Regions from separate parts of the Homo sapiens genome. Here region 1 is linked to region 2. Evidence: fine-mapped expression QTL. A gene starts in region 2. The other region holds a variant in brackets. All regions are shown on one strand. Distances are between the middles of the regions.

What was found.
Region 1: its variant is fine-mapped to the expression of NUDT14 in whole blood (INTERVAL, PIP above 0.99). The same link has a PIP of 0.9 or more in skeletal muscle.

What each region holds. Positions count from the first base shown.
Region 1 is chr14:105,147,549-105,162,151 of GRCh38, forward strand. JAG2 (jagged canonical Notch ligand 2) reads right to left here. Exons shown (of 26, transcript NM_002226.5): 3 at 10,158-10,215; 4 at 8,190-8,441; 5 at 8,014-8,074; 6 at 4,613-4,743; 7 at 4,390-4,509; 8 at 4,078-4,191; 9 at 3,735-3,848; 10 at 3,443-3,556; 11 at 3,317-3,363; 12 at 3,056-3,229; 13 at 1,622-1,772; 14 at 1,389-1,541; 15 at 1,197-1,310; 16 at 778-891; 2 more. It overlaps MIR6765 (microRNA 6765), which reads right to left and starts at 3,316; the gene lies at 3,230-3,316. RefSeq lists an enhancer at 7,443-8,041. The variant C/T (reference allele first, on the strand shown) is at 6,292.
Region 2 is chr14:105,174,444-105,189,046 of GRCh38, forward strand. It overlaps NUDT14 (nudix hydrolase 14), which reads right to left and starts at 6,869. Exons shown (of 5, transcript NM_177533.5): 1 at 6,686-6,869; 2 at 3,249-3,292; 3 at 2,520-2,584; 4 at 2,091-2,328. The coding sequence starts at 6,766. RefSeq lists a silencer at 6,569-7,038.

The sequences.
Region 1 (14,603 bases), 27 kb before region 2:
CAGGGGATCAGTACCCACCCCCCAAGCGTGCCAGGCACTGTCCAGGCTGGCTTGGCGTGATCAGGCTGTGGGGCTGGGGAGGGTCATCAAGGAGGGTGCCTTTTGCTGGGGGCAGGGGCAGCAGGGGGAGGGGCTGGCAGAAGGGACTGGGGGGCGAGTCGGGGGCAGGGATGTCATCTGGGTGGAGGAAAGCGGCCCCCGCCCACACCCCTCCCACACTCACTGTGAGTGCAAGTACGACCCTCCCAGCCGTCCCGGCAGATGCAGGAGAAGGAGGCCCCGCTGCCCACGCAGGTGCCACCATTCACACAGGGGTTGGGCAGGCAGCTGCTGTTCTTGGCTGTAAGGAGAGGAGGAGGAGGGAGCGTCTCACCTGGCCCTGGGCTGGCCCTGGGTCTCCATACCGCGCCCCCAACCCAGACAGGGCAGACAGACCCGGGGGCAGGGGGCAGGGGGCAGGTGGCAGGTGTGGCCCTCAAAAAAGACCCCTCGGCCCATCGCGCCCGAGGGAGCGGTGCCTGGGAGGGCATATGCCCGGCGGTCGCAGAGGCAGCGGGGGCTCCTCACCGACGGCGCAGGTGCTGCCCTTCCAGCCGGGGGGGCAGGCGCAGCGGAAGGTGTCGCCGCTGTCGTAGCAGGTGCCACCGTTGCTGCAGGTGTAGGCATCGCACTGGAACTCGCCTGTTGGCACATGGGCCGCTCAGCAGGCAGGCCCCAGACCGCCAGGGCCAGGGTCCTGGGGGCAGCCCCAGGCGGCCAGGGCCTGCGGACACTCACGTGAGTGGCAGGTCTTGCCCTTCCAGCCGTCGTCGCACGCACAGTAGAAGTCATTGACCAGGTCGTAGCAGCGGCCGCGGCTGTGGCAGGGATCGGGAAGGCAGTCGTTGGGATCTGGGGGCGAGGACGCCGGTCAGCGGGCGGGGGGTCACCGGCGCTCAGGGAGGGCTTCCCGGGGGAGGAAGCACTGGAGCTGGGCCAGGTGAGGACAGAGAGGGGCGGGGGAGGAGCGTCGGGCCGGGGGAGCTGGCCTCGGGCATGGGGGCAGCCTGGGACTCCACCCCATGGTGGCAGCACCCCCTGGCCAGGCCTTTCTGGGTACGGGGCCTGCCGCACCCAGACAGCGGTCCATCTCAGGGTGATAAGGGGCCCACAGGGGTGGAGGCACAGGCCGTGTGGGCGGGTGCTGGAACACTCACTGGTGTCGCAGAGCTCGCCCTCCCAGCCGCTGGGGCAGAAGCAGCGGAAGGCGTCCACCTCATCGATGCATGTGCCCCCATTGCGGCAGGGCTGGCCCAGGCAGTCGTCAATGTCTGCAGAGGCGAGCGGGGTGAGCCAGGGCCTCAGGCCAGCCCAGCCCCACCACCAGCCCGCCGTTCGTGGCCACTCACTCTCATGGCAGTAGGTGCCAGTAAAGCCACTGTCACAGATGCAGGAAAAGTTGCCCCCTGGCTGGCTGACGCAGCGTCCATGGGGGCCACACACGCCGGAGGCTGCTGTGCCAGGCATCCCAGGCCCCGCGTCTGACCCGCAGCCATCGATCACTATGGCAGGCAGTACAGTCAGGAGTCAGGCCCGCCCCTGCCCCACCACCTCCCCCACCACCCCATGCCGCACCCAGCACCTCTGCAGGCCCCGCCAGGGCACGGCTCGCGGGGCACGGAGCAGTTCTTGCCACCAAAGTCATCAGGGCAGGCGCAGTAATAGTCACCCTCCAGGTTATAGCAGCGAGCGCCGTTCCGGCAGGGGCTTGGCTCACAAAGGTCGACATCCACCTGCAGGGTGGGGGGTGCCTGTGAGAGCCTAGGCCCAGGCCCAGGCCGGGAACACAGGCCAGGCCTCTGTCCATACGAAGGTAGATCCCTGGGGACCCCCAGGCCCCTCCGCCCTGGGCCTAACAGTGCCAGCCAGAGCCCAAGACCCCTGCCCACCTGAGACTGCCCAGGCCTTAGCTGAACGCAGATACCTGTGGGCCCCCACCCCCACCTCCACTGCAGCCCAGCTTCCTCACTGTCCCTCGGGAGGAGTGTGGCCTTGGCCCCTGCTGCTGGCAGGAAGGACAGCTCCTGAGCCCCTCACACACTGCCTGGCCACCCTCAGAGCCAAGACTGTGGGTCTTTTCCAGGGCCAGCCACTGCCATGCTTGCAGGTCCTGAGGTCAGACCCCTGCCCTGGGCCCCAAGAAGCCCTCTGGACAGGAGGCCCATCCTCTGCACCAAGGCCAGGGCAGGATCGTGGGCGGCCGAGGGTGGTAGGGAGGTGGGTGGGGGGAGGCAGGGAAAAAGGGGAAGTAAGGGGAGGGGGTGGTAGGGAGGCAGGTAATGGGGAGGCAGGGTTGGGGGAGGTGGGGAAGGGGGTGGTAGGGAGGTGGGTGGGGGGAGGCAGGGTTGGGGGAGGTGGGGAAGGGGGTGGTAGGGAGGTGGGTGGGGGGAGGCAGGGTTGGGGGAGGTAGGGGAGGGGTGATAGTGAGGTGGGTGGGGGGAGGCAGGGTTGGGGGAGGTGGGGAAGGGGGAGGTGGGGAAGGGGGTGGTAGGGGTGGTGGGGAAGGGGGAAGGCAGGTTACTTTGGAGGCAGGGGGGAAGGGGAGGTTGGGGGAGGGGGTCCAGTACCAACAGATGGTCAGAGGGAGGCGAGAGCATCAGCCCTGAGAGAGATGCCCACTCCGACCCAGGACTCACCTATGACAGGTGTATACCTCTCCACCATCAGGCACCCACCCTACCCCATGTGCTCTGCCCACCAGAGCCCCCTGCCCTCCAGTCCCGAGGGAGTGCACAGATGGACAGATAGGCCTGGGCAGCCAGCAGCCCGGGGGCTCCTAGCCCAGGCCACCAGGAAACCCATCACAACAAGCAATGGCCACAGGGGGCCAAGCCTGGTGACCTGTGACAGCCCCGCCTGCCCACCTGGCACCCAGTGGAGAGCTGAGCCTGGGACGCCTTGGGGACAACTTCCCCTGCAGCACCCCTGGGTCACTCAGGCCCCATGGTCAGGGGACGAGGCCTGCCCTACAGCTCCCAGAGCAGCAGGTGGGGCAGGGTGACCAGGCAGACCTCACCTCACAGAGAGGCCCGGAGAAGCCCTGGGGGCAGTGGCAGTGGAAGCCGTCGGCCAGGTCCTCGCAGAGGCCGCCGCTGTGGCAGGGGCTGCTGGCACACTCGTCTCGTTCCAGCTCGCAATGCCGGCCTCCGAAGCCCCGTGGGCACACACACTGGTACCCGTTCACCAGGTCCTGGGCGGGCCAGCCAGGTGAGCGTCCCGCAGGCACCCTGACGGCCCCGCAGCACCCACGCCACACACCCTCCTGGCCCCGCCTCACCTTGCAGGTGCCCCCATGCTGACACTGCCCGCGACAGTCGTTGACGTCTGGGGGCAGAGGAGCAGGGTCAGAGGCGGGGTCCCATGTGCCTCGGCCCACCCGCCGGCGCCCACCCCCCATACTGACTGATATGGCAGTTGATGCCCTTCCAGCCCGGGATGCAATCACAGTAATAGCCGCCAATCAGGTTTTTGCAAGAAAAAGCGTTAAGGCATGGCTTCCCTTCACACTCATTGGCGTCTGTGAAAGAGACAAGGTGGGAGCCGTGGGGCTCGGGCCCTGCCTGCCCCCTGCAGCACGGGCACCTGGCACCCGCAGCCCAGCAGCCCCAGCAGCCCCAGCAGCCCCCGCAGCCCCAGCAGCCCCCGCAGCCCGCATGCGCGGCCCACGTTCCCATGCACTCGCTCGGAGCCCTTACCCAGCTGGCAGGTGGCCCCCACCCACTGCTCGGGGCAGATGCACTCAAAGCCGTCCACCTGGTCCACACAGGTGCCACCGGCCGCACACGGGTTCGAAGCACACTCATCGATGTCTGCAGAGGGTGGAGAAAGGTGGGGCCCTGGCAGTGTGAGCCGTGGGAATAAGGTCCCCATGGGCAGGTGGCGCTGCAAGCCTGGGTCTTCCTGCCATTTGTCCTCGCCAAGCCAGCCGCAGCCACACGTGTGGACTTGACCACTGCACCCCATCCCCAGCGAGTTGCCCCACTCCCAGACCCCCACTGATACTAGGCAGGAGTCCCCTACTCACGTGCAGACACTCACCAAGGGCACAGGTGGGCCCGCTCCAGCCCGATGGGCAGTGGCATTCGAAGCCGGACGGCACCTCATGGCAAGAGCCCCCGTTGGCACACGGGTTGGAGGTGCAGGCGTGCTCAGCTGTAGAACCGCGGGGAGGGGGCAGAGCTGGCAGCCAGGCCCCCAGCTTTCCACAAGCACTCCTCCCCAAGCCCACAGGTTCCCAAGCTGGGGGTCAGGGGCCCACCACACAGGACGCCAGAGGGATGGGGCCTGACCGGCTCCCCAGGGAACCAGTCCCTGCCTGGCCAGAATTTGGGTGGCCAGCCCCCCACGTACCCTTCTCACAGTTCCTGCCCGAGTAGCCGTCAGGGCAGGTGCAGCGGTACTGGTCAGGCTCGGCGTTGATGCACGTGCCTCCGTTGGTGCAGGGGTGGTGGCTGCCACAGTAGTTCAGGTCTGGGGGCAGGGGTGGGATGCTCAGGGGAAAAGCCGGCCCCCCGCTCCCCCACAACCCACACTTCGATGGCAGAGCATTAGGCCTGCCGCCCCCTACCACTACCTTTGTCACAGAGCAGGCCGCCCCAGTTGGTCTCACAGTTGCACTGCCAGGGCTCCACACAACTGCCATGCACGCAGCCGGGGTAGGGGACACACTCATCGCAGAACCTCCCTTGCCAGCCGTAGCTGCACCTGGGGGAAGGAGGAGGGGCGCAAGACCCAGTGAGCTGTGGTGCCTGAAAGGGTGGCAGGGGAGCCAGGCACAGTCACCCACGCCACACCCAGGGCCGGCGGGCGGCCTCAGGCCTTTGAACTGGAGCAGCCCCAGCCAGGCAGGGGTTGCAGCCCTGCCGGCCAGCCCCACTGTCACGGGCATTCCCGGCCGCTGGCTGCCGACGGTCAGCCCCAGCTGTCCCGTCACTCCTCCCTGAGCTATTTTGGGATTCACCCGTGAGCTGGGCCCCGAGAGCAGGCACCAGGAAAGGAAGGCCCTGCCGGGACCCCGGGGATGAGAATGCCGGCTCGGACTCACAAGGTGCTGCCAGGGCCGGGAGGCACCAGGGGCTGGGTAGGCCAGCGGGCAGCAGGGGAGCACTCCTGGCTCTGCCTCGGCCATGTGGCCCTGGGCACAGCACGTGCCCTCGCCCCCACCTCAAAGGCAGTCATTTCGCTCGCTCCCAGTAAAGTCCCACAAGGTACCCATCTCACAGATGGGGCTACTGAGGCCCACAGGCTGGCCTGGGCCAGCCCTGCCCAGGGTAGTTCCTGATTCTGCAGGAGCTCCAGCTGCACCCCCAGCTGCACCCCCCAGGACACAACCACCAGGACTCGCCCTGCCCCAGGCTATCGGCCAACGTCCTGTCTTGGGAGTCCCCCAGGAGAGGGCAGGTGGCCAGGGTAGAACATGGCCTGACTTGAGGGTGCCTCCGTCAGGGGAGAGAGCCTGCAACGACCCCAAGGCTCAGCAGGCTGCCATCCAGGCCCTGCCGGGACTCCCGGGGGGCCCTTCCTAGAACTCTCCGGTCCTGCAGGACGGGAATGTCATCCAGGCCACGTCACTTCCACACCGGCACCCGCCACACTTTATTTTTGTAAAAGGAAAGAACCACGGCCCTTCCTGAGCCGCCCTCAAGCCACACAGCCAGCACCGAAGGCCTATCAGCCCAGTTCAGCTGCCACAAATGGGGAAACTGAGGCCGGGAAGAACGTGTCTCCAGTATCCAGCCCAGCATGCACAGTGGTCCGCGTGGGTGGCCTCACATCCCGCCTAGAATCCCTCCTCCACAGACACAGAGACCCAGGCTCAGGGCGGGGCTGTGACACACCTTGGGTCATCGGCCAGAGAGCGGCCACAGCCGGGCTCAGAGCCCAGACCTCGTGGGTCCCAAGGGCGTGCTCTCGACCCTGGGCAGGGCAGCCCACACCAGGCCCCCACCTCCTGGTTTCCCCAGCCAGCAGCCCCAGGGCCCTGGAGAGGCGGCGGCAGGAAGGCATGGCCATCTCCGCAGCATCCGGTGGGGGGGCGTCCTGCACTGGAACCTGAGCCGAGGCTGTCAGCAACAGCTGGGCCTCCCCGACAGGGCCAGCAAGAGGGGCAGGCGGAGCTCACCTACTGCCCCCACCCACCAGGCCCCCCAGACTCCGGCTCATCTTCCTGCGGGTAAAGGGCAGGGATGGCCAACTTCTCTGCTGCCTTCCTCCAGCCTTGGTGTGACATTCAAGCTGCCAGCCAGCAGCCAT[C/T]CAGGGAGGGTGGCACTGCCATCCAGGTTGTGTGATGCACACTGGGCCAGGCGAGGGTGAGTGGGGCCGACTCCCGTAGATCTACATCTACATCTGCCCAGACCAGGTCCACCTTGTTGCACTTTCTGAGCTGACTTGGGACTCGCTCAACCTGCCGGGAATCCCTGTGTGTGCAAGTGACCGGGTGGGCGGCCCCAGCCCTGCTTGCCTCCCCGCTCTGGGACTGGCCGGGAAAGCTCCTCACTGTACCCTCCAGGCCACTCAACCGTGGGGCCTGTGGAAGGGTCACCCACCTCCCCACCTTGGCTCCCAACTCAGCTGGTTCCCAAACTCCCCGACTCCTCTCCAAAACGCCACGCTGTGTGACCCTGGGGAAATCAGTAGGCTCTCTGTGCCCCAGTGTCCTCGTCCCATGGAGGCAAACCCACTCCACAGAGGGAGGTCCTGGGACCCCTGCAATCCAAGGCTGGCTGGAGGGCGGTGCTCACCTCCACCTGCTGTCTCTCCACCCGCTCGCGCCCCTCTCTCGGGCTCCCCAGCTTGCTCACGCACAGTGAGCGCCACGGCTCGAAGCCCGTGCCCACCCCAGACCCTGGGCCCCAGCCCCTCTGGTTGCCCTGCTGACTTCTCTGCTCCACTCTAGGGCAAAGCTGCCAGCCCCCCTGGCTGGATCCCCCACACTCTGGTCTGGGTCCAGAGGCCTCCACCATCTGGACTTGGCTGTAAGACCCCGGACACTCCCTTGTGGAGGCCCTTGCTGACTCCTCATCCATCCGCCCTGACCTGTGGCAGCCGGGACTTGCTCCTTGGCCTCCCTCCTCTCTGCCTTCCCCACTTTCCCGTCACCGCCTGAATGCCACCCCCCACAGGCCCCGCGTGGCGCAGGCCAGGCCTCTCCCACGAGCTTTCTGGGTGTCTCCAGGGACAGGGCAGGCATCGCCTCTCCACATCCAGCTAACCCCGGCCCCGCCTGCTCCTCTGTGGCATTCCTCCTGCCACCATGGCTCTGCTACTCAGCAGCTTGGGGTTCTCCCTGACTCCACACCCTTCCTGCTTGATCAAATCCATCCACAAACCCCTGGGCTCCACCCCAGGATGTCTGCAGGACCCGTGCGCCTCTCCCCCTTCCACTGACCCCCTCCCCATCCCGCTGGCCCCTCCCCCACCACCCCCACATGCCCCACAGCGGCCTCCCCCTCACAGCCTCCCGTCTGGTGCTTCCCCACTCAACAGCTACCACAGCCCTTCCACCCACCTTGCCCAGCTACAAACCTGCCAGCAGCCCCTTCCTCTGTCCCTGGTCCTGCAGGCCTCAGCTCCCACCACTGGTCTGCTCTGCCGCCCCTCGCCTGCTGGTGTCACTTGCCGGCCGCTCGCCGCCCACCCCCTCCCCATGGGCAGGGTTACCGTGTCCTCTGCCCATGCCCCATCTCTGGGTGGCTTGCAGCCTCCGGGTCTCTGCCCCTCGGTGACGTGACTGTCCAGCCAGCCTCCCCAGTCTCTCCTCACTGTCCTCACATGGCTGCCGCCATCAGACACATCCCATGCTCAGACACGCACCTACTGCACTAAGGAGCCTCCCGAGCTCAGGGCCCGGCTCTCACAGCTGTGTGCCCAACCTCCAGCCAGCTCCGGGCGACTCCTGACAGCAAGGCTGTGTGTGCCAGTGAGGACGTGAGGGCAAAGGTTGGGAGGGCAAAGACGGGCCGGCGGCACACTCACCTGCACTCCCCAGGCACGGTGCATCCCCCGTGGAGCAAATTACACCCTTGTTTACACACAGCTGCGAACAGAGAGGAGCGAGAGGCACAGCTGCAGCCAGCCTGGCCGCAAGGCCTGTGCCCGGGGCCCTGCCCGAGGCCCTCCCTGCCCTCCACGCAGCCCAGCGGCCCCCTCACCTTCCTTGCACTCCTTGCCCATCCAGCCGTCCATGCAGGCCTTGTTGCCGTACTGGTCGCAGGTGTAGTGGCCGAAAAAGTCGTTGCGGGGCCGGCAGAACTTGTTGCAAGTGGCGCTGTAGTAGTTCTCGTCGCAGCGCACGCGGATCTGCAGCTCCAGGTGCGCCACGTGGCCGCTGAAGTGCAGGCTCTTCCAGCGGTCCTCCGGGTTGATCATGCCGGCATGCGACACTCGCTCGATCAGCAGCTCCTCTTGGGGAGGCGGCAGAGTCAGCACAGGCCAGAGAAACCAGCCCGGCCAGGGGTCCTCCAGGAACAACGGGGACGGGGCAGAAGCCTGCGGCTGCTGCAAGGCCGGGGCACAGCAGGCAGCAGCACACGGAGGGCAGGGCCCCCGGCCAGGCTGCTACAGAAAGCTCAGGGCCCCGAGAGGCCTCTCCCTCCCGCCACCAAGCCTGCGCCCCGCTCCCACCCTAAACGCAGAGGGTCGGGGGGCCCGGCTAGGGGCTAGGGGCCCTGCAGGGAGGGCTGCTGAGACCACAGGCTCCACAGAGAAGGCACGGCTGCTGCCAGGGCGTGAGTCTCACGTCCCACACCTGTGCCCACCCACCTGCAGCCCTGCTCCAACACCTGCACCCACCTGCGCCGTGTCCAGCCCTCGACAGCACGGACATGGTGCTCAGTTGCCCTCCCCTCTCCTGCGCTGTGACTTGCTCCCAGAAGTGCCAAACACCACTACCGTCCCCACCTTAAGACAAGCCTCCCCTCAGGCCCCCAAGACAGGCATAGGTCCCGTGACCCGCTGTCTAAGCCTCACTTTAAGTAAGCCACCAGGAGACCAGGGGCCAGGGGCACCACAGCTGCTGGCGCTGGTATGCAAAGTCCGTGATGCCGGTCCCTGCGCTTAGGCACAGGCTCGACGTTTTGCACAATAAAAGGTGAACGGGTCCTCCAGACCCCACCTCTCCCGCCTCGGGCCAAGGCCTGGGAGGACACTGTGCTGGCCCACTCCCCAAGGGGCGTCCCGGCCGCCCCAGCCTCTCCAGGCTCACGTTGTCAAGAGCCCTGACGACCTTGCTTGGGACTCAGCCCACCTGTCTCTCTGCCACCCCCTCAGGAAACACCCCTGCCCTGAGCCGCTGGGGTCCCCACAACTGCTGCTCCCCACCTGGGCACCCCCACCGCCGTCCCTGCCCTGAAAACAGCCCCTCCACTCTGCTGGCAGCCAGGATGCCCTGGCCCCGCTCTCCCTCCTCCAACCCATTGGCCAACCCCATGCCTCCACTTCTGAGAGCCCCTCTCACCCCCAGACTGCCCCTGGTCCAAGTCACCCTGACACGCCCAGATTCACGTGGCAGCTCCTCCTCGGTCTGTGTCCTGGCCCCACAGCCCACCCTCCATAAGGCAGCCACAGCTTGCCAGGCGGAGCCCGTGTCCTCTCAGTGGCTTGCCAGCCTCCATGATCTGAGCCCAGCCCCGGCTGCTCCCCCTGCACAGCCAGCCCGCTCCTGCCCAGACCTTCACACGAGCTGCTCCCTTGGCCTGTGGGTGCTTCTGCATTCACCCATGGAAGTCATCCCGTTACCCCTGCAGGGCCCTGCAGAGCCCCTGCCTCAGGGAGAGGGCCACCAAGGCTCCATGCTCCAGTACAGACAAGCAGAGGGGGCCACAAAGCCAGAGACACACTCAAGGGTGTCCCCTCCACTAAGTCACTGCCATGGGCCCCAAAAGAGCACACCCAAGAGGAGAACAACATAGGCAAAGCCAGGACTGGGGAAGAGAGTGCATGCACAGCTCTGCAAGTCCCAAACGTGGCAGAGCTTCCTGGCAGCCAAAGCAAAAAGGGAAACAGCACACATGATCCTCAGGGTAAAGCAAGGCTTTGTCCCAAGCAGACAGAGGAGCTGGGCCCTGCCACAGGCACGCTGAAGCTGAGAGGAGCTGCCACCTGGCCCAGGGCTCACTCACCATTCGGGGTGGTATCGTTGTCCCAGTCCCAGGCCTCCACGATGAGGGTAAAGGAGCGCTGCAGACATGGGGAGGCGGGTCAGGTACCTGAGGCCACACCTGCCTGCCTCGTTCAGGGTGGGACAAGGCCCAGGGCTCAGACGCTGCCCCTGGGTCTGCCAGGCTCTGGCCCTTCCTCCCCAGCCAGGGACCCACCACCCTCCTCATCCTCAGGCCACATCCTCTGCAGACCCAAAAATGACCCAGCTCAAGGGAGGGAGACTGCCCCTCCAGGCCACGCGGGCTCAGGGGCCTGGGCTCCCTACCGTTGGGGTGCCAGAGGCCCAGCCTGCCCTGAGCTGGCTCAAGTCAGCACGGAGCACAGGAAGAGCGACCGGGGGGAGAGGTGGGCAAAGGGCAGCCTGGCTGGAGTGGCCACAGACAGGGGCCCCATGGGCAGCCGGGACCCGAGCGTTTCCTGTGGAACGCCCCTTGGTGCCTCACTGGGGGTGACCACGGGGGAGAACGTGGGGCCCCATCACCACGCTGGCGGCCTCCACCAAGTGCACGGGGTGGCCAAGTACAGGGCGCCCAGCCAGAGGCCCCAACAGGCCGGAGCTCAGGTCCTGCAGGCATACAGCACACAGGCAAACCCACACCTACCTCCACCCTCACACAGAACAGGTGGCAGGAGGGGCCCTTGCGGTACAGTTGGGGAAACTGAGGCCAAGAGGTCCTGGGACTGCCCAGCACAGCCTCAGACCATGGCCACTATGCCCCCTCTGCCCCCGGGCCACCTGGCCCTTGTACCCCAGCCATGGCGACAGGCGATGCTGTCAGCCAAGCAAAGAGACCACAGGGCTGGCCCCCTGCTCCGCCTAGTGCAGCCCACGGAGACCGTCACTCACAGACATGCTCAGACAGGTGGGACCCCCGGGACATGCCCTGTACTACCCAGCACTGGGTACCCACATTCCACAGCCTCTCAGCCCTCACTGCCCAGGAACCCCCCAGTCTACCCCTGGTGTGCTCTTGACCCCTGAGCCCAGCCCTGGCTCCTTCCAGGTGGGGCCCAGAGGAGGGGGCTGGGGCTGAGTCACCTCAGGGCCTGCTGGCTTCCCACCCCGGGGGGATGCTGCGTTGGGCAGTGTCCAGGCAGGCCAGGCTCACTCCATCCCTCAGCACACCCCATCCAACCAGCCCCAAGGCCTGGCTAAGCTGGGGAAAACCACACTTCCCCAGCAAGGCCCAACCCCACGCCTGCCAGCCCTTCCCTGGTCCTCACCCGCCGCCCACCCCACGCACGTCCCAGTGCCTCGGCCTCATCCAGCTAAGGACAGGCCTGGCCTCCCAAGATGTCTCAGAAGACTGCACTCCCACGTCCAGCCCCTCCCCTAACCAACGTGCTACCAGCCACACCCAGCCCAGCCTCCAGGACCCCCACCCAGTCCCCCGCCCCACACCTCCGACTGTCCCTCAAATACAGACAACTAGGGCCCAACATGACTGCTGACCCTGGGCCTCACTCACAGCTGGGCAACCCCGGCCCCGCCCCCGAGCCCCTGCCTGCAGAACACCCGGGGACGGCCCGAGGAGGCTCACCCAGGTAGGAGCACAGGATGGAAGTGGGGGGCCATCCCCAACCCGCTCCTAGAACCCTCCCTAGCCACGTCGAGCTGACAACAGACCCTCAATCCCACCTCTTAAGCTCCCCTTAAACCCGTTTTCCCACATCCGCCATGGCCCCGCCAGGCCACGGGGCCCAGTCCCCGCCCATCTCCAGGGCTCCCTGAGGTCACCAGGGCCCGCAAACCTCTGCCTACAGGCGCCAGACAATCCCCAGAGTTCCATCCACATGCCTCCCAAGGCTCCGTCCACACCCCCCGCCGAGCTCTGTTTACACCCCCCAGAGCTCCATCCACACCCCCAAAGAACTCAATCCACATCCCCCAACGGGGTTCCATCCACACCCCCCAACAGGCTCCATCACCTCCCCAGGGCTCCATCCACACCCCGCAACATGCTCCATCCACACCCCCCCAGAGCTCCATCCACACCCCCCCAGGGCTCCATCCACACCCCCCCAGAGTTCCATCCACACACCCCAACATGCTCCGTCCACACCCCCCCCCAGAGCTCTGTCCACACCCCCCAACATGCTCCATCCACACCCCCCAGGGCTCCATCCATACCCCCCAGAGCTCCATCCACACCCCCCGAGTTCCATCCACACCCCCCAACATGCTCCATCCACACACCCCAACATGCTCCATCCACACCCCCCAACAGGGCTCCGTCCACACCCCCCCCAGAGCTCTGTCCACCCCCCCCAACATGCTCCATCCACACCCCCCCAGGGCTCCATCCATACCCCCCCAGAGCTCCATCCACACCCCCCAACATGCTCCATCCATACCCCCCCAGGGCTCCATCCACACCCCCCAGGACTCTGTCCACACCACCCCCAGGACTGTGTCCACACCCCCCAAGGGCTCTGTCCACAAACCACCCCCGTCAGCTCCATCCACACCCCCCAGGGCTCCATCCACACCCCCACCAGGACTCTGTCCACGCCCTCTCAGCTCAGAGCACCCTTGGGGTTCCCAAGGCTCCTGCCCACCCCCACCCACCCACCCCAGCCTATCAACCCATCTGCCTGGAGCACCACCCTCGCAGCTGCACCTGGCCAAGCCCTTCCCCACCCCCGGTAACACCTGGAGCACCCAGCCGCTTCCCAGGCGTCTGGCATTTGGCTCCTTCCTTCGTTCCTTCCTTCCTTCGTTCACATCAAGTGTACAGCAGGCATGCCTCTGCCACCAAGGACGGCAACCTATAGCCAGCGGGGCTCGGGGAAAGCAACAGGGGGCAGGGGCTGTTGTTCCAATAAGGCCAGGCCAACGGGTCACAGTGGCTCACGCCTGTAATCCCAACACTTTAAGAGGCTGAGGCAGGCAGATCACCTGAGGTCAGGAGTTCGAGACTAGTCTGGTCAACACGGTTAATCCTCATCTCTACTAAAAATATAAAAATTAGCCAGCCATGGTGGCAGGTGTCTGTAGTCCCAGCTACTCTGGAGGCTGAGGCAGGAGAATCACCTGAACCCAGGAGGCCGAGGTTGCAGCGAGCCGAGATCGCACCATTGCACTCCAGCCTGGGCAACGAGGGCAAAACTCCATCTCAAAAAAAAAAAAAAAAGGCCAGGCCAGGCTTTGAACAGGTGGCATTGAGATTGAGGCTGCAGGGCATGAGGAAGTGAAGGAGCTGCATGGCAGAGCCCACAAGAAGGCCCAGGGGCTGAGAACGCATAGCCCACGGGGACAGTGGGGTCATACCACAGATCCAGACCCCACCACGGACTTCCTTCCTGAGGCTAAGCGAAGTGGGTGACTGTTGCGGGTCTGAGTGAGGTCTGTTCGGGTGTTGGGGGTCCGAGTGAGGTCTGTTGGGGGTCTGAGTGAGGTCTGTTGGGGGTCTGAGTGAGGTCTGTTGTTGGGGGTCTGAGTGAGGTCTGTTGTTGGGGGTCTGAGTGAGGTCTGTTGTTGGGGGTCTGAGTGAGGACTGGGACCCACCAGGCTTTAACAGTCACTGTAGCCGCTGGACAGGAACCAGCAGGACCAGGAAGCAGCAATAGTGAGGTCAGAGGATGGGGCCAGCATGGGTCTGAGAGCAGCTCTGGCCACGGGGCAGGCAGAGAAAAGCCAGGCCACCCGGTCTCCCGGCACAGCCACACCTGGGCTTCAGGGCCAGCAGGGAGTTCCTCTCGACTCCCAGGAAACCTCATGCCAGCCACTCAGGTAAGATTACTGCCACCTTCGCCTGAGCCCAGGGCTCCGGTTACCTGCTCCCGCAGGGACGTGTGCCTGCCCGCCCGCCGAGAGGGCCTCACCGCCCGCCAGCTGGGGTCCCTACACCTGGATGGCAGGAAGTCATCCAGAGTGAACCTGAGCTGGCTGACGGGGCGGTACCTGCCTCACCCCACCTGCCAGCTCTCCCAGCTCCCCTTCTTCCCTAGGGGCCAGCCTCCAGGACTTATTTGCCTCTTCTGTGAATAACAACCTCTCACCCCCGTCCTTCCAGGACTCAGTTGCCTCCTCTGCGAATAGCAACCTCTCATCCCTGTCCTTCCAGGACTCAGTTGCCTCCTCTGCGAATAGCAACCTCTCACCCCTGTCCTTCCAGGACTCAGTTGCCTCCTCTGCGAATAGCAACCTCTCACCCCTGTCCTTCCTGCCTGGCGGGCCACGATCTGGGACAGGGTTTTGTCAACACCAAACCCCTAGAACACAGGAGGGACTATAGGGCCTGGATTGGGCGGGGGTTGGCGGGCATGTTGCCCTTCTAGGAACGGGGCTGGGACATGTGGGGATGTGGGCCTGGCGCTGGCAGGGGCAATAGGCGATGTGTGGGCTGGGGGTCTGGGGACAGGTGAGAGACCCATCACCTGCCCAGGTTCCCCGGCAAGCAGGG
Region 2 (14,603 bases):
AGGGTAGAGGCCGCCCTCTGAGATGTACCCAACATACAGGGGCAGGGACAGAACTGGGGGCTTCCATGCCCCACCCCCAAGGCCTCCCCACCTCCGGGGGGACTCACCCCAGACCGACCTTACCCAGCTGCTTCCTTGCCCTCTAGCCCCTCACCTCCCGCAGACCCCTTCCTGATGGCCCATTTCCGGCGGCGGCCGCGGCTGCGCCTCTGAGGGAAGTGGCGGGTCTGGGGTTTCCAGCCCCGGTTTCCGCCGGCTTGTGAAGGAGACAGGCCCGGCCCTTGGCCCGGGCTGAGAGGAATCTGCCAGCCAGGCTGGGCAACGCCTCCCCCACCCCAGGGCACGTTCCAACTTCACTCCATCACGCCCCAAGCTGACTGCCTCCCTGGGCCTTGTCCTTTGCAGCGGCAGGTAAGAGGCCTGGCTCACCTCCAGAATCAGAGACAGGGAGCCACGGGCCCTGCCACAGGGTGGGTGAACTTTGCTGTCAGTCCAGCCCCCCATCAGGCCCTCAGAGACGGACACCCTGACCCCTAGTCAGCAGCATCTCCAGTCCTGCATCCCTGAAGCCACGGCCTGCTCTTCCCGATGCGAGTCTAAGCAGGATGCCTACTTCCCAGAGCCCTCCTTGGCTCCCCAGCACCCTCACAATCAGGCTGTGGCCCAGAGGCTGTACCAGTAGAACCACCGCGGCCAGGGCTGCTTGACCACTTGCCCTGAGAGCCTGTGCGGTCCCTCTGCCAGGAACCTGCCCAGGCCCACCTCCTCCAGGGGGACCAAGGGGACTCCAGCCCCTCCCATGCCTCCCGGCTGTGCTCAGTACTATGGGCTGGGGAGCTGGGGGCACAGTGGGCGTGGCCCACCACGGGGTAGACACCTGCAGAAAACCAAGGCCCATCCTTCACACCCAAGTCCACCCTTCGGCATGGAAATTCTGTTTTGTTGAGACAGAGTTTCGCTCTTGTTGCCCAGGCTAGAGTGCAATGGCGCGATCTCGGCTCACCGCAACCTCCGCCTCCTGGGTTCAGGCTCACCGCAACCTCCGCCTCCTGGGTTCAAGCGATTCTCCTGCCTCAGTCTCCTGAGTAGCTGGAATTACAGGCTCCTGCCACCACGCCTGGCTAATTTTGTACTTTTAGCAGAGGCGGGGTTTCTCCATGTGGTCAGGCTGGTCTCGAACTCCTGACCTCAGGTGATCCGCCTGCCTCGGCCTCCCAAAGTGCTGGGATTACAGGCGTGAGCCACCGTGCCTGGCCCAGCGTGGAAATGCTGCCTTTAACTTGGGAGTCCACCCATCCAGCCAGGAACGTGCCCAGGTGAAGTCCTTGAGGCTGCTGAGGTGGGAGGGCCCCAGGCTCAACCCTGAGTGGCCCATGTGCCAGGCTGACAGGTGCAGAGACTTCCGGTGCTTCTCCCAGTGGAGCGGGCCCTGGCCTCTGGAGGAGGCTGTGGAGGCTGGTGCTCAGCTGGTGGGGGTGGGGGTCTGTGACACCCTCCTCCTTCCCCAAGACCTCAGCTGGGGTCAGGAGCCCATCGTAGCGTCCCTGGGGAAGTGGATGGGCTTCATACCAACATCTAGTCCTGGGAAGGCAACCCCACCCCAGCTGGCAGCCCTCGCGGGGCAAGAGTTGGTGCCTCGAGTTTGGTGGGTCAGGTCCCAAAGCGCAGGCTCTAGTGCCTGTTCCCCAGGAGAGCTGGAGCCACCCCTTCTCCAGCCCAGGACACAGCTTCTCCCTCATTCCTAAGCCACCCTCTGAGAACAGAGCTGTGAGTCACCCCCACCCCCAGCGCCCGGTCTTAATCCTACAGGAAGTAGAGGCACCTGTCAGCAGCAGCTGTCACCCGGCCTGCCTCACACAGCTGGGGGCCGCAGGCTGGGGGCATGGGGCCGAGACGCTGCAGAGAGAGCCCCAAGAGCCCAGATTCTGGCCTGGCTTAGGAGCTGAGGCGCATTCGGTCCAACCCTCCCCTAATCCCATGTTGGAAAACAAGGAGGAATCCATCCTGCTTGCACACTCCCAGGGACGGGGCCCTCACTCTCTCCCATCTCCTGAGTCACACCACAGGCCTGAGGGCCTGGTCCCACTCACCAGTATGTGGCGACCCGGCGCAGATCAGAGGGGGCCAAGTGGTAGCCACACTCCTCCCAAGCCTCCTTGCAAGCCACTTCCTCCAGCGAGAGCCCAGGCTGGTCCACGAGGCCGGCACACAGCTCAACTGTCACCCCCGCTGAGCCGGGCAGGGCTGGCTGTAGCTCCCGAGGCCCGTCCTGGTCTACAGCTGCTAGGGACCCTGGGAAGCGGCGCTCCACCTCACCCGCATACACAGCTGCGTGGGAAGAAGCCAGACTGTGCTCACAGCCACGTGGTGGCCACCTCCAGGTCACCCACACAGCCAAGCCCCCTCCCAGGGCCTCAGCTTCCCCTGGAGCCCCCTCCCACATCTGTATTCAGACCCTCAGGACCACAGGGACCTGAAGGTGACCCTGCAGATCCCCTTCCCACCCCAGCTGGCCTCACCTGGCCGGAACTGCTTCACCAACACCAGGCTCCTCCGAGAAGAGTTGAATAAGAGAACGGTCACGCTGTGTACGGGGGGAGGGGCTCAGCACAGAAGCACTCCACTGGCCCTCGTGGGGCCCCACCTCCCATCTTTCTGTTCCCAGCGTGGCCATCCCACCTCCTTGCCAGCAGCCCAGGGAGGTCAGGCCCCTTGCTCAGATAGGATGGCTGAGGCCCAGGCGGGACCAGAGCTTTCCAGGGTCACAGTCTGGCCAGGACCCAGACCTGCTGTATTCCAGCTGGCAGGATGGGAGGCGGGGGGCAGGGAAGGACACACGGGCAGCTGAGTAGGTCAGGGTGCTCGCAGCTGAGGCCGGGTGACTGACAGGACGTTTGGCCCTCACTGAGCAGCTGCCCACCAGCCACACTCCTCGAGCCACGTCGCCATCCAGCCCAGACCCTGGATGCTAGGGGCAAAGGCTCCAGGACAGCCTCTCCCTGCCCTGAGAGGGCCTGCCCACCATCATGGTCCCGGTGGCCTGAGCAAAGACCTGACTCAGCCCCCAGGCCTCAGGCTGACCCCTCAGGGATAGGAAACCCAGAGGCCGGGCAGAGAGAAGGGACTTTTGGAGCCCACGCAGGGAACAGCAACGTCAGGGAGGAGAGGGCACCTTCGCCCTGGGCCCAGTGTCCCCGTAGACATCAGTCTGGGGCTTCCCCAGTGGCCAGGCTGGGCCAGGCTCTCACCTGTCATGCGTCTTCATGAAGTCCCAGGACTTCTGGGCACCATTCTAGAAGGGGCAGGTCAGCGGTTAGAATGTCCCAGGATGGGCGGAGGTGCTCGGGGAACCGAGGAGGCCACAGACCCATTGCACCCACTCCTAACCAGGGAGATCGGCTCGTGGCCTGGGCCCACGGGAGCCAGGAACTGCAGCTCCCGTGGGCAGAGGAGCAAGCAGCCTGGGAGGGGCAGGGAGGTCAAGGACAGCCTAATACCCTACGAGTGAGGCAGAAGACCAGGGCAAAGGGCAGGGAAGGTGTCCAGGCACCTCATGAAACACTGCCCAGCACAGACCGAGCACAAGGGGCTGCAGAGAGACGTACACCGTCACCAAGTATAGGAAGGCTCATGGAGGCTCGGGGAGGGCAGGCGTGACTCCCTCACAGCAGGGCAGGAGGGCCCTGCAGGCAGAGGAGAGGTCAGGTTTTCCTGCTGATGCTTCCTTGGGCCACTGAACAGGTGGAGACGGGAGGGCAGGAGGGGCCGGCACCAGGAGTGGATGGGGAAGGGTGGCAGGAGGGGCTGGCACCAGGAGCAGATGAGGAAGGGTGGCGCCCCAGCCAGGTAGGAGATCGCACTGCAGGACTCGGTGACTGTCATGATGGTGACCAGGCTCGGCAGCCCCCCCACACACCCCTACCCCCAGTTTCTGGCCTCGACTCTCCCACATACCCTGTGGTCCCGTTCTCCTGTGGCCACCCTCCACCTTCCCACTCCCCCACACTGGGCACACCACCCTGGCAGGCCCCTGCACCCTGGGTGGCACTCAGTGAACGGAGGAGGCAGGGTGGGCAGGTGTGTGGGCTGGGCCTGCTGGGGGAGGCTGGAACTGATGCATTCTGAGATGCACTCCCATCCTGGGGGCTGAGCCTGGGGTCCCGCGGGGTCCCATCTCCGGCACGCTCAGCCCATCTGCCACTCTGAGGCCCAGGCCAGCTGCTCATCCCCCACCGGGGGCTCTGCCCAGGGCTGTGAAATGGACAAGAGGTCTGAGCAGCAGAGACACAGAAGTGCAGCCAGGACTGCAGAAGAGAGAAGAAGCCTTCCTGAGGACTTTCTGGAGGAGGTGACGGAAGTGAGGGAAGGGACTCTGGGCAGGCAGAGGCGCAGAGGCCCTCTGAGCTTGGCCGGGAGGCAAAGGCGTCCTGGGAGGAGAGTACCGGTTTCCAAGGGAAGGGAGGGCCGGCGTCCCGCGCAGGTCAGGCAGCCCGAGAGGCCGTGGGGTACCACTCCCGGGAGGCGACCCCAGGCCTGCCTGACACCCAGCCACCCCCGAACCACCACCCAGCCAGGGCAGGCTCCAGGGAAGCCCCCTGCCCACAGCCTGCCATGTGCCTGCTGTGCCCATGCCCCTTCCCCACCACTGCTTCCCCCCGAGTAACATCACCCCATGCAGGTCTCAAGGACCCTCTCAGCTCAAGGTCAAAAGCGTGTCAGACCCTTAGGTCCAGCCAGGTCAAGGTGCAGGGAGGTTTAGGGAGGCTGCTGAGGCCTGGGAGGGAGGGGCAGGGCTGGGTGCAAAGAAGACCCCATCGCCTCGGAGCCACGGGGGTCCCCTGCCTTTGGTCTGCCTGACATCACAGGCCTCCCCTGGCTGGACGCAGCAAAAAGCTGAGGGCTGCAGCTGCCCCTGGGTGGCAGCCAGCGTCCAGCCCAATGTCCCTTGGCCCTGAGGAGATGCCGCCCAGCCCGAGCCTACATCCGTGTCCACCACAGCCACAGCCCGAACCAGCTCAGCTCTGGTCACCAGAACCCTTCAGCAGAGCTGTGCCGGCGGGCTGCCCGCTGAGGCTGCAAGGGCTGCCCTGAGGCTTCACGGGGAGTGAGGGAGAGAGTGCTGCCACCAGGGCCACAGAGGGCACCTGCCTGGGCCTGCACCTGCTGCCTGAGACCCAGCCCTGTGGGGACTGTGCAGCCACAAGCAGGCATCCCATATGGCCAACGTCAGGGAAAAGGGCAGTGACCCCATGTCTCCACCTGCTGTACCCCGACTGATCCCAGCTGCCCCCTGCCAGCACCACCAGCTTAGCTTCGCCTTGGGGAGAGGGATCCCCTGTCCTCCAGCGCCAACAGGACTCCCGCAACAGGGAAAGTGAGGGGCACAGGGCCTCTCTCAGGCTGGGGGCCAAGAGGGCTTCTCCAGGATGGCGAGGGGCAGAGTCCTGGATGTGATGGGGGGGACAGGATGCCCCCTGAGGGAGGGAGGCAGGCAGGCAGAGAGGCACTGCGACCTGGACCACCTGACCTGATAGGCTGGGGGGCTGGACTGACTGTGACCAGGAAGGTGGTCTTTGCCTTAATGGCATGAAGGAGCTCTGGCAGAGGGGAGATCTGCTGGGGGCAGGTGGGCATGCAAGCAAAAGGTGGGGCCCTAACTGGACAGGGCTGGGCTTGGAGGAAGACGGCCCGGGACTCAGTGATCCACTGGATGTGGGAAAAGGATGGCAGCAGCTCCTTCACCCAACACATATGCCTCATGCCTGTAATCCCCATGCTTTGGGAAGCCAAGGCAGGAGGATCGGTTGAGGCCAGAAGTTCAAGACCAGCCTGGGCAACAGTGAGACGTCGTCTCTACAAAAAAATTTAAACATTAGCCAGGTGTGGTGGTGTGCACCTGTGGTCCCAGCTACTGGGGCGGGGGCTGAGGCAGGAGGATCGCTTGAGCCCAGGAGGTTGAGGCTGCAGTGAGCTGTGACCATGCCACTGCACTCCAGCCTGGGCGACAGCAAGACCCTGTCTCAAAAACAAAACAAAACAAAATATTCCTTGTGAACCTACCATGTGCCTGGTGCTAAGTGAGGCAATACAGCCTCTTGTGCCGTGGCCTGGCATGGGAGAAGGTGACACCCTAGGAGGTGGGGAAGGCTGAGCTTAGGCAGATGGAGACTCCAAGGAGGTGCCCTCCCTGGAAAAAACCCCAAGGAGGAAGCCTGCTTTGAGAGGCTCTCTCAAGTTCTCACTCAGCTCCTTCTCCTACCTCCCTGCGCCCGGCCTCTGCGCTCCTTGCTCCCTCCTCCTCGGCCCAGCTATCTCCTCCTTCAAGTGGTAGCATGAAAGCCACCACTTCCAGGAAGCCTTCCCTGATCCCCAGGGCAACCAAGGAGTTCCACTGCCAAGAGGGTCGGATTGGGCGGGCGGGAAGGATGGGGCCCAGCAATGCTTCCTTGAAAGGATGAGTGGTGCCCCCTCAGATGTCCCTCCCGCGGCCCCTCCCCGGCCTGGGGGCTCACTGGGTCTGGGAACCCGCGATCCGGCGGGCGGACAAGCGGCCGCCCGGGAGATCGGCGGGAGGCGGGGGCGGGGCTCCGGGGCGGGGCCGGCAGCGCGGAAGATGGTGGGCGGGGCGCGGGTCGTGGGCCGGGCCGCCGGCGGGGGCGCGGGGGACGCGGGGGCGCGGGCTCACCTGGCGGTAATGCAGCGTGAGCGGCCGCAGGTAGGGTGAGGCGGCGCAGCGGCCCACGGACGCCCCCTCGATGCGCTCCATGGCGGCGCCCGGACAGGCGGGGGCCGCGAGCTCTGCGGGGGCCGACACGGGGCGGCGCCCTGTCCCGACAGGAGCCTTCGGGCGGGCGCGTGACCGCGGCTCTGAGCATGCTCCGTGGGCGCGCGGGGCGGGGCGGCCGAGGTGGGCGGGGCGGCCGAGGTGGGCGGGGCTCGCAGGTGCCACCTGTCGGGTGCCGCGCGCCTCGGGGCGCTGGTCGCCGCGGTGCCAGGGAAGCCGCGCAGGCACGTGGGCGTCGCCCGGGGGAAGGACTGGCCGGGTCGACCCCGGCCGCCGGGCGGGGCCAGCCGGGCCGGGGTACAGTGCTTGGGTGGGACTCGGGACCTCTTGGCTGGGGGAGGGAGGGCCTGGCGGTGGTTGGAGCTAAGGGCCTGCAGCTTTGGGGTGCGATGGGCCGAGCGGATGCCTCCCCACTCTGGGGATGGACCACAACCCCGAGATTAAGTTACTCCAGGGGTCCGCGGGCGGGGCCGGGGGCGGGGCAGCCCCCCAGGGAGGGAGGGACTGTGGGCCCAGGAAGAAAATCACAGGAGACCAAAGAGAGAGGGCCCTGGAAGGAAGCTAGGGGAGAGGAGAGTAGGGAGCTGGAGGGGCCAGAGCTTGGGCCGAGGGGGCCTCCCCTCGAGGTTCCTGGTGGCGAGGGTGGCTGGGAGCTGCCACGCTGTCTCTGGAGCTGTCCCTCCTCCACTCAAAAGCCAGCTGCCCTTCCCTCCCCCTGCAAGTCCTACCTTGATGACGGCCCTTCCTGGGTGTGGGAGGGTCCCAGGCAGCTTCAGTGCTTCCTTGGGCATGGATTCCAAGGACCCCCTCCAAATGCCACCACGGCCTCCACGGGGGCAGGAAACAATATTGAGGCCCACACTGGCCCTGAACCCTGACCTGCACCTGCTTTCTGAACTATGGCCCAGGGGACATGCTCAGGGTGGACTGGCCATGTGAGCTTGAAATCGACTCCCAGTTCCCTGTTAACTATTGCCGTGTAACAAAACACTCCTCCAAAGCTTAGTGCCTTAAAGCACCCCGTTATCGCCTGGCCTGTGGGTTGCCCAGCTCAGCCAGGCAGCCCTGTCTTGGGGTCTCTCTGCAGTTGTAATCAGGTGGCAGCTGGGGCTGGAGTCGTCTGAAGGCCAAACGGGGTGGACCGTCCAGGATGGCCTCTTCGCCCCCGCCCTCAGTTGGGTGGCTGGAACAGCTAGGGCCGGCTGGCCTCCCATGTGGCTGGCGTGGGCTTCCCTGCAGCATGGTGGTCTCGGGGTAGTTGGATTCTCCCGTGGCAGCTGGCTCCCTCCAGAGCACGTTCACCAGGCCAGGCCAAGCTGCCAGGCTTTGTGTGACCTGGCCTCAGATGTCATATGGTGTCATTCCTGGGGCATCCTGTGGGTCAGAAAGTCCTGGGCCTCCGGCAGATTCCAGGGGAGGGACATCACCAGGTGGGAACGCTGGGGAGCACGGTCATGAAGCCAGCATCCAAGTCCAGCTGTCACCGCCCCAGTAGCTCTACAGGGGCCTGTGTCTCCCTGCTTTAGCCATTCCGCCTGGTGTCCCGGAAGCCAGAGCGCCCAGCCCAGAAGCTGGCCCCACCCTACCCCACAGCCAGGCAGGCCTCTTCCTCCGGTGCACGAGGGGCCCAGGGTAAGCGCGCACCCTGGCATGTCGCGTGCAGGCTCCTTCCTGCCCGTGGTTGCATGGAAAATGAGGATGAGTCTCAGCTTCCAGCAGCAGCAGCCCCGGGACAGGCAGAGGCAACAGGAGCCCCATCAAGGAGCCCCTGGGAGAGCCAGCAGCTCCTCAAAGCACCGTGCTCCTCAGACTCACTCGGGTCCAGGTGTCTGGCAGTGCAGACTGCAGAGCTGAGTGCCTGAAAATATCAGCAAGGAGCCCACTGTGGGACGCAGCCTGGCGGCTCCTCAAAAAGTTAAGCATAGAATTACCCTGTGGTCCAGCAACTGTCTTCCTGGGTATCCACCCAAAGGAGTTGAAAACAGACACTCAGACAGATGCTTCCTCACAGCAGCCAAAGGGAAGAACAACCCAAGCATCCGTTGCCAGGTGAATGGATCCAGAAAATGCAGTGTAGACGTGTAAGGTAGCACAACTCAGCCATGAGGAGAGAAATTCCCACACAAGCGACAGCGACACTATGCTCAGCAAAAGAAGCCAGACACAAAGGCCGTGTCCTCTGCGATTTTGTGTATATGAAATGTCCAGGCCGGGCGCGGTGGCTCATGCCTGTAATCCCAGCACTTTGGGAGGCCGAGGCAGGCAGATCACGTGATGTCAAGAGTTCGAGACCAGCCTGGACAACATGGTGAAACCCTGTCTCTACTAAAAGCCAGCCGTGGTGGTGTGTGCTTGTAATCCCAGCTTCTCGGGAGGCTGAGGCACGAGAATCGCTTGCACACGGGAGGGAGAGGTTGCGGTGAGCTGAGATCTTGACACTGCATTCCAGCCTGGGTGACAGAGTAAGACTCCATCAAGAAAGGCAAAGGCAAAGGCAAAGGCAAAGCAAGGCAAGGCAAGGCAGAGAAAGGGAGGGAGGGAGACAAAAAGCAAGAAAGAAAAAAGAAAATGTCCAGAACAGGTAAATCCATGAGACGGAAAAGCAGCTGCGGACTGGTGGGGCTGAGGGCGGGAGAATGAAGAATGCTGACTAATGGGTGCCGGCTTTCCTTTCCGTTTGGGGTGAAGAAGGCATTCTGGAAGCAGGCAGTGCTGGTGGCCGCACAGCAGTATGAATGTACTGAATGCCGCTCAGTGTGCACTGTGAAGTGTTTAATGTTCTGTGAATTTCAGTTCCATTTTAAACAAATTTTATTTAGAGATAGGGTCTCATGATGTGGCTCAGGCTGGACTTGAACTCCTGGCCCCAAGCAATTCCCCCACCTCGGCCTGCTGAGTAGCTGGGACTACAGGTTCACACTACCATGCCTGGCTCGGTTCAATTTTTTTTTTTTTAAAAAAAGGAAAAACCAGTGTCACTGAGGCTATTCAGGAACATTCCATGCTGTCTATGACCACAAGGCCACTGCCCACACGTGGAGCTGAGGACAGGGCAAGTGAGGCCTGCTGTCCCTCCGAGATGGAAAGGGAGAAAAGGCAGAAGCAGCCCAGGCACTTTACCAGTTCCTGCTGTGCACTGGGGTGGCTCGAACAGGTGATTCGGGGCAGGCCTGATGTCACAAGAAGTTAGGACAGGCATGCCAAGAGGCAGAGGACAGCCTCCCCGAGGACACGACACTCCCCAGAAACCCGAAGATCCAAGGCAGGAGAAAGGAAGCTGTCCTGGCAGGAGGAGACCGAGGCCAGAAGAGGCGTTGTGGCCCTGGGGGCAGCTCCCTTGGCCTGTGCTTGGCACATCCCCTGGGGCCACTGGAAGTCTCGGAGGGGTTGGGCAGGGCAGGTGGTCAGATGCCCCTCTGGGAGGTCACCGTGGCTGCCTGGGGCCGGGGGAGGAGGAGACTGGTCCGAGGGCCTTTGGCTGTTGTCCAGAGTGGTGGCTGTGCAGAGGATGGCTTCGTTCCCCATGGAAGCAGGTGCAGGAGGAGGAGGAGGAGCTTGATTTGGGGAGGGGCTCCAGGAGGGGGAATGAGAGGACTCCGTGTGGCCAGGTGGCCTGAGAGCCACAGTGGAGAGCTCTGAAAAGCCACCTCTGGCTTTGGCAGTGTGGAGGCTTCAAAGACCCTGCTGAGCATAGTGGCAGAGGCCCCTGCAGATGCCCTGTAGCGGGGCCAGAGGGCATGTGGGGTGAGAGCACCAGTGTCAGCTCCCCAGGGCTGCCAAGACAAACCACTGCCAACCCAGCAGCTGGGAACAGCACGGCCATGGCCTTCCAGCCCTGGGGGACGGGTGTCCAAAACGCATCCCACCGGGTGAAGGTCAAGGGTCACAGGGCGGCTCCTTCTGGGGGCTCCAGGGGAAGATCCATTCCTTGTCTTCTCCAGCTTCCGGAGGCGGCCCCCGCCCCCTCCTCACCTTCAAGGCCAGCAGAGCGCCCCTCCGTCCTCCCCCGACTCTGCCTCCGTCCTCGCGTCTCCACCCTCCTGCTCCCTCTTCTGAGGTCCTTGTGACCACAATTTAGGGCCCCCCCGGGTCATCCGGGGCCATCCGGGGCCATCTCCCACCTCGGGTCCTTCTGTTAGTCAAACCTGCTAAGTCCCCTTTGCCACAGAAGGTCCATACTCGCAGGTTCTGGGGATCCAGGTGTGGACTCTGGGGAGGATGCGTCGGGAGGGCATCACCACCAGGGCAGGACCCTGTGGCGCCAGGATCTGCAGCCTGGGGCCTCGCCCCGCAGCAAGTGGGCGGGTTTCTTGCAGGACACCTAGGAGACCGCTGTGGGCTTCTGTCCCCCTTCCTCTGTAAGGGGAGTGAGGCAAGGGCCCCTGCCAAGGATGAGATGGGAGGGGAGGGAGGCGAAGTGGCCCCTGTTGGCAGGGGGCTTGGGTGCGGGCTCCGAGGGGGCCTGGGGAGCAAGGCTTCCTGGTGGCACCGGGCTGGGGATGCTCCTGGGCCATGCTGGAGGCAGGGCAGGTACAAGGGGGGCCCCTGGGCTCCTCCATGGCTCAGCTCCTTCCCAGTAAGGTCACAGGCAGCAGGTGGATTGGAGAGTTGAGGACACTGAGCAGGGAGCTACAGGCATGACAGAGCCCAGGTGGGGGTGCGGGGGGTGGGGAGGACGTGGGGGAGTCAGGGGCGGGAGGGGTGCAGGAAAGCCAGGGGCGGGGATTCCGAGGTAAGTGCAGAGGGAGTGTCCCGAGAGAGGCTGAGTTGAGGGGAAGCTGGAGGAGGATCAGGATGGGGGGTCAGGAGGTCGGGGGTGTGGGGCACAGAAGTCCACTGGGTGTGGGCAGGAGTTGAGTGCAGAGTGCTCATAAGTGAGCAGAGTGGTGGGCTCCAGGACTGGCAGTGGGGTGCTGGGGGGATACAGCAGAGACCACACCCGGAGGAGCAGCAGGGGGCTGGGCCGTGTGTGTGTGTGTGTGTGTGTGTGTGTGTATCTGTGCATCTCTGTGTGTCTGTGTGTGTAATGGAGAGAAGCAGTATGTGTGTGTGTGGAGGTGTGTGTGGGGGGCTGTGTGTGGGGGGTGTACATGAGTGTGTGGGGGGTATGTGTGTGAGTGTGGGGGAGTATGTGGGGGGGTGTGTGGGAGTGAATGTGGGGGTATGTGTGTGGGGGGGTGTGTGTGTATGGGGTGTGTGTGTGGGGTATGTGAGTGGGTGTGGGGGTATGTGTGTGGGGGGGTATGTGTGTGAGTGTGGGGGAGTATGTGGGGGGGTGTGTGGGAGTGAATGTGGGGGTATGTGTGTGGGGGGGTGTGTGTGTATGGGGTGTGTGTGTGGGGTATGTGAGTGGGTGTGGGGGTATGTGTGTGGGGGGGTATGTGTGTGAGTGTGGGGGAGTATGTGGGGGGGTGTGTGGGAGTGAATGTGGGGGTATGTGTGTGGGGGGGTGTGTGTGTATGGGGTGTGTGTGTGGGGTATGTGAGTGGGTGTGGGGGTATGTGTGGGTGTGTATAGGGGGTGTGTGGGAGGTGTGTGTGTGGGCTGTGTGTGTGGGGGTATCTTTGTGGGGGGTATGGGGGGTGTGGGGGGTGTGTGTGTGTGAGTGTGGGGGGTATGTGTGTGGGGCGTATGTGTATGGGGGTATGTGTGTGTGAGTGTGGGGGGTATGTGTGTGGGGTGTATGTGTATGGGTGTGTGTGTGAGAGTGTGGGGGTATGTGTGTAGGGGGTATGTGTGTGGGGGTGAGTGTGTGGGTGTGTGTGGGTGTGTATAGGGGGTGTGTGGGAGGTGTGTGTGTGTGTGTGGGTATGTGTGTGGGGGTATGTGTGGGGGGTATGTTTGTGGGGGGGTGGGGGGTATGTGTGTGGGGGGATATGTATATGTGGGGGTGTGTATAGGGGGTGTGTGTGTGGGGGTATGTGTGCGTGTGTGTGAGTGTGGGGGGGTATGTGTGGGGGGTGTGTGTGTGAGTGTGTGTGCAGCCAAGCTTCTGCACTGAGTAGGAATAGGGCGGCTTCACTAAGCAAAGGGGCTGAGCAGGTTGGAGCACCTGCAACCCAGGAGTGCGCTGCAGAAGAGGCTGAGTACACAAAGGCTTCCTCCCAGGCTGAAGGTCCTGCCTTCGTGAGGTGCTTGGCAGGGAGAGCCTGGGAACTGCTGTTTTTTCTGGGCATCTGGAAAAGCCTTTTCTTTTCACCTATGATAGGGAGTTTTGGTGATGATAGGTTGTTTTTTGTTTTTCTTTTTTTGGTGGGGGTGTTGTTTTTGTTTTAGACAGGGTCTCACCCTTGCCCAGGCTGGAGTGCAGCGGTGCAATCTTGATTCACTGCAGCCTGGACCTCCTGTGCTCAAGTGATCCTCCCACCTCAGCCTCCTAAGTAGTGAGGACTACAGGTGTGCGCCCCTATGCCCAGCCAATTTTTTATATTTTTTGTAGAGATGAGGTCTCGCTATGTTGCCCAGGCTGGTCTCAAACTCCTAGGTTCAAGCAGTCCTCCCTCCTTGGCCCCCACAAAGTGCTATCAAGGCGTGAGCCAGTGACCCAGCCTGTTTTGCATGTCCTAAGCTATATTATCTTTTGTCTTGCCTAATCTCACAGTGGGCTCAACCTCACCCTGTCAGCTGAAAGTCTCAAGAGAAGAGAACTGAACAGAGCCTGGGGTCAAGGTGTCTTCAGCCTCCCGGGGACTTCACAGGAGCCATTCAGGGCCATCAGTGGGTGGGGACTAGAGGATTCTAAGGATACCCAGGTCCCCACAGTCAGGGCGTGTGACGAGGCTGGCAGGGGCTGCTCTGCAGTTCTGCTTGTAACCCCCCAGCGCCTCGCCACCGTCTCCCAGGTCCCAGGCATGAGTCAGAGCAGGTGCGGTGGAGAAGCAGCATCCTAGCTGCACCACGGGCGCCACCTGCTGTCACACCCTCTACTCTCAACGGCCAGCTCCCACGTGGGCACAGCTGGCCTCCAGACACCTCCCTTCACAGCCCTCTGAAGGCTCCCTCCCCCTGCTCTGGTGGAGCCCATCCTGCAGCCACTTCCTGCGACAGGGTGCGTGGAAGACACATTTTGAGCACCGTGCCTATCTGAGAATGTCTATTACACTCTCATCCTTGAATGATAGCTGGGCTGGGTATAGAAGTCTAGGCTAGGGCCAGGCGTGGTGGCTCACTCCTGTAATCCCAGCACTTTGGGAGGCTGAGGCAGGTGGATCACAAGAGACCAGGAGTTTGAGACCAGCCTGGCCAACATGGTGAAACCCTGTCTCTAATAAAAATATGAAACACTAGCCAGACATGGTGGTGCATGCCACCCAGCGACTCGGGATGCTGAGGCAGGAGAATCACTTCAGCCTAGGAGGTGGAGGCTACAGTGAACTGAGATCACGCCACTGCACTCCAGCCTGGGCGACAGAGCAAGACTCCATCTCAAAAAAAAAAGAAGTCTAGGCTGGAAGTCACTTTCCTCCAGCATTTTGCAGGCATTGCTTCATCGTCTGTCTGTCTCCAGGGGCTGCTTCCACTTCTCAGGCCATTCTGAGGCCCGTTTGAAGACGTAACATGTGTCCATGTGGAGAATGTTCTGTTTGCCCTGTTCGCGGTGTTTTCCACATTGTCGCGTCTTGGCTTGGGGATGCTTGAGCTGGCAGTTTCTGAAAGACGAGTTAGAGATAAAACTGAAATAGGAGGCGACATCTAGGATCGACTTCAAAATAATCACGTCGGGAGAGGGAAAGGAGACGGCAGAACTGGCCCCACGCTGAAGACCACTGAGGCCTTCTCAAAAAAAAAAAAAGGGGGGGGCATAGTGTAGAGAGGTGGT